Regions from separate parts of the Homo sapiens genome. Here region 2 is linked to region 1. Evidence: fine-mapped expression QTL. Tissue or cell type: skeletal muscle. Region 1 holds a variant in brackets; the other region holds the start of a gene. All regions are shown on one strand. Distances are between the middles of the regions.

What was found. PIP is the estimated chance that this variant, and not a neighbour inherited with it, causes the effect.
Region 2: PLD3 starts here. The variant in region 1 is fine-mapped to the expression of PLD3 in skeletal muscle (GTEx, PIP above 0.99).

The regions. Positions count from the first base shown.
Region 1 is chr19:40,777,039-40,781,196 of GRCh38, forward strand. MIA (MIA SH3 domain containing) reads left to right here. Exons shown (of 4, transcript NM_006533.4): 3 at 1-41; 4 at 359-452. The coding sequence ends at 382. It overlaps RAB4B (RAB4B, member RAS oncogene family), which reads left to right and starts at 1,209. Exons shown (of 8, transcript NM_016154.5): 1 at 1,209-1,353; 2 at 2,981-3,061; 3 at 3,347-3,461. The coding sequence starts at 1,338. MIA-RAB4B (MIA-RAB4B readthrough (NMD candidate)) reads left to right here. Exons shown (of 10, transcript NR_037775.1): 3 at 1-41; 4 at 2,981-3,061; 5 at 3,347-3,461. RAB4B-EGLN2 (RAB4B-EGLN2 readthrough (NMD candidate)) reads left to right here and starts at 1,181. Exons shown (of 12, transcript NR_037791.1): 1 at 1,181-1,353; 2 at 2,981-3,061; 3 at 3,347-3,461. RefSeq lists silencers at 343-472, 1,023-1,262 and enhancers at 1,323-1,392, 2,280-2,811. The variant C/T (reference allele first, on the strand shown) is at 2,431.
Region 2 is chr19:40,346,478-40,350,635 of GRCh38, forward strand. It overlaps PLD3 (phospholipase D family member 3), which reads left to right and starts at 2,218. Exons shown (of 13, transcript NM_012268.4): 1 at 2,218-2,291. It overlaps C19orf47 (chromosome 19 open reading frame 47), which reads right to left and starts at 1,920. Exons shown (of 9, transcript NM_001256441.2): 1 at 1,847-1,920. RefSeq lists a silencer at 1,795-1,884 and an enhancer at 1,875-2,164.

The DNA of each region.
Region 1 (4,158 bases):
ACCAGACCCTGAAACCTGGCAAAGTCGATGTGAAGACAGACGTGAGTGTCATGGGGGCTGGCAAGAAATGTGGGGGGAGGACCCTTAGGTTGTGGGGATGGGCAAAAATGCTCCCACACTTGGCTCCCTGGCAGCCTAGGTATGTGCGCTGGGAGAAATTCTTTCCCTGCCTCAATTTTCTCACCAGTAAAATGGGTCCAGTTGGGAGGTGCAAAGATTAGAGGGCTCTAGGCTAATTTGCATAGCACTTGTGTGGCCAGACCTGGGCCCTGCAGCTGCAGCCTTTGCTAAAACCACTAGATCCTTTGTGGTGTGACCGCTGGTTTTCTTTCCACTGTTTCCCCTTTCTCTTTTTCAGAAATGGGATTTCTACTGCCAGTGAGCTCAGCCTACCGCTGGCCCTGCCGTTTCCCCTCCTTGGCTTTATGCAAATACAATCAGCCCAGTGCAAACGGCTCGTCTCCGTGGTCTTTGGGGTGGGGTAGGGTAGGGTGGGGACTGTACAAATGAAATGTTTCTCTAGGTTGCTGAATCTAACCAATTAACCCGCTGCCTGTGGTAACGTCAGTGGTTGCTAGGCAGAGTTTCACTGATGAAAGCCCTGTGCAGTAGGAGCGCTCCTAAGCTTAGGTTTCGGACACAAGCAAAGGAAAACCTAAGCAGCCCAACTAGGGGATTGTAGTGTCCTCTCTAGACCAGTGGGAGGGAGCCAATCGGACTACGCGGAGGATATAAATCGCACAGTAAAGGTTTTCTTGGAAGATTATCTGGAAAGGGAGGTGGGAAGTAACCTGCGCCTATCTGCCCAGTTTTCCTCCTTTTCGCCTTTGAGAACAGTAATCGCTCCCGCCAGCTCAAGATCAGCTCCTCTTCCAGCCTCTTTCTGTCAATCCTGCCCGTGCCCCCTTCTTTGCATTTGTATCCCCTCCCCCAAGTCCGCTCCGATCCAATCCGGAGACTCGACTCTGCCCCCCGTACTCCAGACTAAATCCGTTCCTCGGCTCAGCTAAGCAGCTCTGCACGTCCCTTCCCACTTGCTCAGCCAATCGCTGGGCTCGGCCCCGCCCCTTTGGGCTTGGTCCTTCTCACGCCACCAATCCGCGCCTCTTGTCCCGCCCCCTGCCCGCGAGTCCGCCAATCCCGCCCTTCGGAAAGCGTCGCCTGGTATCCAGCTGCCGGAGCGGGTCGCGCCGGAGGGGGGCGGAGGCGGAAGTGGCGGTGCCGGGCCCGGGGAGTAGGAAGGAGCCGGGGCTGTAGCCGGAGTGGAGCGGCTGCCAGCCGAGGAGCAGGCGCGGCCGCGGCGCCATATTGCGGCCCTCAGCGGCCGCGACCGAGTCATGGCTGAGACCTACGGTGAGGGTGGTGGACGAAGCTGGGGTCCTGGGTCTGGGCCCAGGGAGGATGCGGCCTGTGGGAATGGGCGGGGCTTTGTAGATCAGGGGGCGGGGTCTGGTGTGATGGAGGCAGGACCTAAGTGGATGCTGGGAGGGGTTTAGTGGGTCTGAGGCTGAGCTTAATCGATTTAGGTGGAGCCTGAGGGTCTGGTGCGTGGGTTAAATAGATCTGGGGCGGGATTTGAGGGAGCTGGTCCTGAGGGGTTCAGGGAGGCCCTGAGGGAAGAGGTGGGCCTTAATGGATCTGGGCGGAGCCTGAGTGAAGGGGCGGGGCTGACTGCATGAATGGCAGGAGTCGGGCTTATGGGCTAGAGGGAACACTGAATGGAAGCTCGGGACCCTGGGGCTGATCTGGCTGGAGAGAGCTCTGGAATGGGTTTGGGGATGGGCTGTCCTTGAGTTAGGGGCAGGACTTAGTGGCAAAGGGTGGGACTTATGCATGAGAATGGAGCCGGGTTCTGGGCAGAGGGAGGGAAGGAGAGGTCGGGAAGTGGAAAATCAGTAGGGATGCACCATAGGAGGTGGTGATTGGAGGCAGGGGAAGTGCAGGTTTAGGAGTCAGAGGGAGCCGCATTCACTCAACAAATATAGAAGAGAAGGGAGAAGAGTGCAAAGACCCTGAGGTGAGAACCAGCTTGTCATTTTCAGGGAATAGACTGAAGGTCAGGAGCTATAGTGGAGTGAATGAGTCAGAGGGTGGTAGGAGGTGAAGAGGAACAAGGGCTATATCGTAGTCCTTGTTTAAATAGCTTTCAAGAGACTTTAGCGACAAAATAGCTAAGATCTGGGACTCTGGAGCCCTTGGCCTAGGTTTGAATCTCACTTCTGCCCAGCTGTGTCACTTTGGGCAAGTCAGTTAACCTTTCTGGCCTGTTACCTCATCCGGAAAATGGGAATAATTTTTAGTCTACCTCCCTCATAGAGTTTTCCTGAGGATGATGTGAGCTGTTGATGTGAGTAAAGACCTTTAGAACTGTTCCTGGCCCACAACAACACACAATTGACCCATGTAACAAACCTGCACATGTGGGCTGGG[C/T]GCGGTGGCTCATGCCTGTAATCCCAGCACTTTGGGAGGCTGAGGCAGGCGGATCACCTGAGGTCGGGAGTTTGAGACCAGCCTGACCAACATGGAGAAACCCCGTCTCTACTAAAAATACAGAATTAGCTGAGTGTGGTGGCGCATGCCTGTAATCCCAGCTACTCGGGAGGCTGAGGCAGGAGAATTGCTTGAACCTGGGAGGTGGAGGTTGCGGTGAGCCGAGATCGCGCCATTGCACTCCAGCCTGGGCAACGAAAAGTGAAACTCTGTCTCAAAAAAACAAAAACAACGACAAAAAAACCCCTGCACATGTACTCCCTGAATCTAAAATAAAAGTTGAAAAAAAATATATAGAATGTGCCTGGCACATGGCAAGTACTACATAAGAGTTATCTGTTACTGTTACCTATTGGTTTGTTTCTGCCTATGTCTGTTTCTCTCCCTCTAACTGTGATGGTTAGAGAGAGAGATTGGATTGGAATCCATCTTTTTTCCCTGTATCTTTCTCTCCCTGTGGGTATCCCTGATTTTGGCTCCATCTGGTCAGACTTCCTCTTCAAATTCCTGGTGATTGGCAGTGCAGGAACTGGCAAATCATGTCTCCTTCATCAGTTCATTGAGAATAAGTGTGAGTTTCCCGCAGTGGTCCTGGGAACCCTGAGCTGTGTTTATGCGCATGGTGTGGGCTGGTGGGCAGCCGGTGGGGAGGGCAGGGCTGGCCATAGGTACAAGTCCAGTGCTGGCTTTTTGGTCCTTGCTTTGTCGTATGTCCTTTACTAGGTTCTCCTTGACCTCAAGTCACTCCAGCAAGGAGAATGGGTTTGTAGAGACTGAGAGGGCCTTGGAGGATGGGGGATCCTCTGAGCTGTCTCCTCTCTCCCTGTACTGCCCCTTCTGTTCCTCCTACTCCCAGTCAAACAGGACTCCAACCACACAATCGGCGTGGAGTTTGGATCCCGGGTGGTCAACGTGGGTGGGAAGACTGTGAAGCTACAGATTTGGGACACGGCTGGCCAGGAGCGGTTTCGGTAGGTGGGCTGGGCTCCCAAGGGTGATGGGGAGAGAGAGTGAGAAGGAAAGAGAGAGATGTGTGTGTAGAGTCACTTGGAGACACTGAGAGGGCAGACAAGGCAGACAGAGAGAGATGAGACACCGTAGTTAGCAGGTATATATATCCAAGGAGAGAGGGAGTACTGGAGAGATAAAGAGATGGTGGAAGAAAAAGAGGTAGGGGCCAGGCGCAATGGCTCATGCCGGTAATCCCCGTGCTTTGGGAGGCCATGGTGGGAAGATTGCCTGAGCCCAGGAGTTTGAGACCAGCCTGGGCAACATAGTGAGACCCCATCTCAAAGAAAGAAAAAGAGATAGAGAAAAGTGGCTTGGGGGTGGGGAAAGGGATGGAGACTGAGAGACACCGAAACAGAAAGAGAAGGGGAAACTTGAGAGACTCACACTCAGAAAGGAAAAGAGCAAGAGAGACAGAGACTAAGAGAGTTGAAGAGAATGATAAGGGAGGTAAGGAGGCCTGGCACGGTGGCTTACACCTATAATCCCAGCACTGTGGGAGGCTGAGGCAGGTGGATCACTTGAAGTCAGGAGTTCAAGACCAGCCTGCCAATATGGTGAAACCGTGTCTCTACTAAAAAAAAAAAAAAAAAAAAAAAATCAAAAAATGTAGCCAGGCTGTGGTGGTGGATGCTAGCTACTTGGGAGGCTGAGGCAGGA
Region 2 (4,158 bases), 430 kb before region 1:
TAAATAAATAATAAAAATAAAAAAACACCATCTTAAAAAAAAAAAAAGAGGACCCTTTTTTTTTTTTGAGATGAAGTCCCACTCTGTCGCCCAGGCTGGAGTGCAGTGGCGTGATCTCGTCTCACTGCAACCTCTGCCTCCCAGGTTCAAGCAATTATCCTGCCTCAGCCTCCCAAGTAGCTGGGATTACAGGCCCCCACCACCATGCCCGGCTAATTTTCTGTAGTTTTAGTAGAGACGGGGTTTCACCGTGTTAGCCAGGATGGTCTCTATCTCCTGACCTCGTGATCCGCCCGTCTCGGCCTCCCAAAGTGCTAGGATTACAGGCGTGAGCCACCACGCCCAGCCAAGGACCCATTCTTAAAGGTGTTACAAGGATTAAACGAGTTAATAAACAGAGTCCTTAGAACAAAGATGCACGGCAGGTGGTTAAGTGCGATGTTAAGTGTGCATCAAATAAAACAAATCTTCAGTAAGCTAGGGAAACAGTGGGACAGTCACTGACTTAATGCTAGTTTTATACAAAGTGTGAGCTGGGAACAAGTATAAGGACAACTTAATGGGGGTCCATGGGATCTGACAACAGGGAATCACACAGTACAGGTTCTGAACAGTATCCCTATTCAAAGGGAATACGTAGTATTCCTTTTCAATTATCTTTCCATTTCAGTGTACAATGTAATGGGCTGTTCAGTTTCCATTGTATTTTACCTGAACTTTTCCTTCCTCTCATGGCCAGCAATGCTAGTTTTCCATTGAAGACAGCAATGCGCCGGGCACGGTGGCTCACACCTGTAATCCCAGCACTTTGGGAGGCAGAGGCGGGCAGATCACCTGAAGTCAGAAGTTCGAGACCAGCCTGACCAACATGCAGAAACCCCGTCTCTACTAAAATACAAAAAAAATTAGCCGGGCGTGGTGGCGCATGCCTGTAATCCCAGCTACTCGGAAGGTTGAGGCAGGAGAATCCCTTGAACCCAGGAAGCGGAGGTTGCGGTGAGACGAAATTGCACCATTGCACTCCAGCCTGGGCAACAAGAGCGAAACTCCGTCTCAAAGAAAAAAAAAAGAAGAAGACAGCAATGCAAATTTGCCTTCTCAAATTAACTTACTGGGGAAAAAAATGCACTAGTCATTATCAAGAAAAAGAAAAAAACTAGTACTTCAGGACTCAGCAAAATTGGTCAAATAGTAAGTGACAGGATGTCGATTTCCCCGGCTCCAATTCTAAGTTTTTCCTATTGCTGTCTCTGAGCTTTCTCCCCCAGCTTCCCTGGAATTCCCAGCTACACCAATGACTCTCAGAATCATTATCATTATAGTCCCAATCCACGAGCTCTCACTGTGCCAGCCCCTCTGCTTAAAATCTTTACACACACAGATTTCATCAGAATCCTCAAGACGACCCTATGATATTGGGACTATCTGCTCTCATTGTACAGATGAGAAAAAACGGGGTTCAAGGAAGCGAAGACACAGGCCCCACTGCCGCACAGTGGAGCGGGACTTGAACCAAAATTCGACGGCTTCCAAACCCAACAATTTTTCATACTAAGCGCTCAAACATCAATACTAATAATAATAGTATAGTAACGAAGTGAGCGTTATGCGGAGGCGCTGAGCTAAGGCATCCAACGTACACGACCTGACTTCTCACTCCCATTTATAAAGCCGGTGATACAGTCGGATTCTAACCCCCATTCCACAGGGGAGGAAACTGAGGCTCAAAGAAACAAATCGTAAGTCCGAAGCCGTACAACGGAGCCCGAACTGAGTCCAGACACCCGGACGCCACCCGTCCCTACCGCAACCGGCCCAGTCCCACCACCCCCGGCCCGCGCCTCACCTGGCCCACCGGGCCCGCGCCCACTCGCGCCGCCCGCCCTCCCTCCCGGCGGCGCCAACTGTCAGACACTCCTCCCCCGGCCCGGGCTGCCCGCCCCGGAAGCATCCTCTCACCGCCGGAAGCTGAACTGACTCGTCCGCGGCCGCTCTACCCCAACAGGCCGCCACCAGCGAGAGTGCGGCCATAACCATCACGTGACCGCCCACCGACACCAGCGAGAGTGCAGTCGTAACCGTCACGTGACCGCCCACCGTCGGCCCGGCGCTCCCCTCCGCCCGAAGCTAGCAAGCGGCGCGGCCAATGAGAAAGGCGCATGCCTGGCCCCCGCCGGCCTGCAGTCTAGCCGTAGTGCGCCTGCGCGCGGCTAGGAGGGGCCGTCAGGCGGGGATACAGCCTGGAAGGTGCGTGTGGGGCTGGGTCTCGGAGTGGGAGACGTGGAGTGCAGGTACTGTGCGATCTGGGGGCGCGGCGCCTCGGCTACCCTCCTCGTGTTGTCTTCCACGCTATAATGCATGGAATATAATATATATTATATGGAATATAATATATGGAATATAATATATATAATTATAGCGTTGTCTTCCACGCTATAATTTATGTCGTCCTCGGTCTCTTTATGTCACCATTCCTCTCCTTCTGTCTCATCCCACTTAAATCCTCACAACTCCTTCTGTCGCCATCACCCTCTTTAAATCCTCACAACTCCTCTTGTTGTCATCAACGCCCTTAACTCGCTTTCGTTCCCTGTAAGCCCTCTTTGCCACCATAGGTCGTAATCGCTCCCTTTAAATTCGTCATCGCCATATGTTACCTGCATCCTGCTTTTGTTGCCATTTCTCCTTTATAAAATCCTCATTTCTCTTTAAACCCTCATCATACCCCCAAGTCACCTTCGCATGGCTACTGTCCCCATCGCTCTTCTTAAATCGCGCTAATGCAACTCTTACGTCATCATTACCCCTTGTGTCTTTGTCCCTCCCTTGGCATCACTGTTCCTCTGACCAGTCACCATCCACTCCTCATGCTTCCAGTTTTCCCCATAAGGAGCCACCCAGCCTTACAGTTATTTTTCTTCCCTCCGTGTCTTCGTCATTTCCCCGTGTCACATCTCACATAACATACGGGGTACTGCAGCCCATTACCTGGGGTGTGTCAGAATCCCAGCCCCACCACTACACCTCTGGATACCTTGACTGCCTTATGGCACCTTTCCAATCCCAGCTTCATCTGCAAAATGCACACGGGGACATCCACATCAGGGCTGAGTGTGACGATTCTGTGAGTTTATTCTTGTGGTAGGCTCAGCTTGACATGGTGTTTTTGGCTAATATTGTTATTAACCATGTCACCCTCGGCCGGGTGCGGTGGCTCATGCCTGTAATCCCAGCACTTTAGGAGGCCAAGGTGGGCGGATCACCTGATGTCGGGAGTTCGAGACCAGCCTGATCAACATGGAGAAACCCCGTCTCTACTAAAAATACAAAATTAGCCGGGCGTGGTGGTGCATGCCTATAATCCCAGCTACTCGGGAGGCTGAGGCAGGAGAATGGCTTGAACCGGGGAGGTGGAGGTTGCAGTGAGCCGAGATCGCGCCATTGCACTCCAGCCTGGGCAACAAGAGCGAGACTCCGTCTCAAAAAAAAATAATAATAATAGGCCAGGCGCGGTGGCTCACGCCTGTAATCCCAGCACTTTGGGAGGCCGAGGCGGGCGGATCACCTCAGGTCGGAAGTTCGAGACCAGCCTGACCAACATGGAGAAACCCCATCTCTATTAAAAATACAAAATTAGCCAGGCATGGTGGCACATGCCTGTAATCCCAGCTACTCGGGAGGCTGAGACAGGAGAATCGTTCGAATCTGAGAGGCGGAGGTTGCAGTGAGCCTAGATCGTGCCATTGCACTGTAGCCTGGGCAACAAGAGCGAGACTCCGTCTCAAAAAAAAAAAAAAAAAAAAAAACTGCATGATCTTGGGCAACTAACTTAACCTCCCAGCGCCTCAGTTACTGCATCTGCAATATGGGAATGAAAACACAAATTAATCATTCTGCACATAATTCTTAAGCATGTACTATATATGTGCCCAACACTGCTAGACACTGGGGATACCTCAATGAACAATACAGACAAAAATATCTCGGCCTGGCGCAATGGCTCACACCTGTAATCCAAGCACTTTGGGAGGTGAAGTGGGTGGATCACCTGAGACCAGGAGTTTGAGACCAGCCTGGACAACATGGTGAAGCCCCATCTCTACTAAAAATGCAAAAATTAGCCAGGCATGGTGGCGCGCCCCTAAAATCTGAGCAACT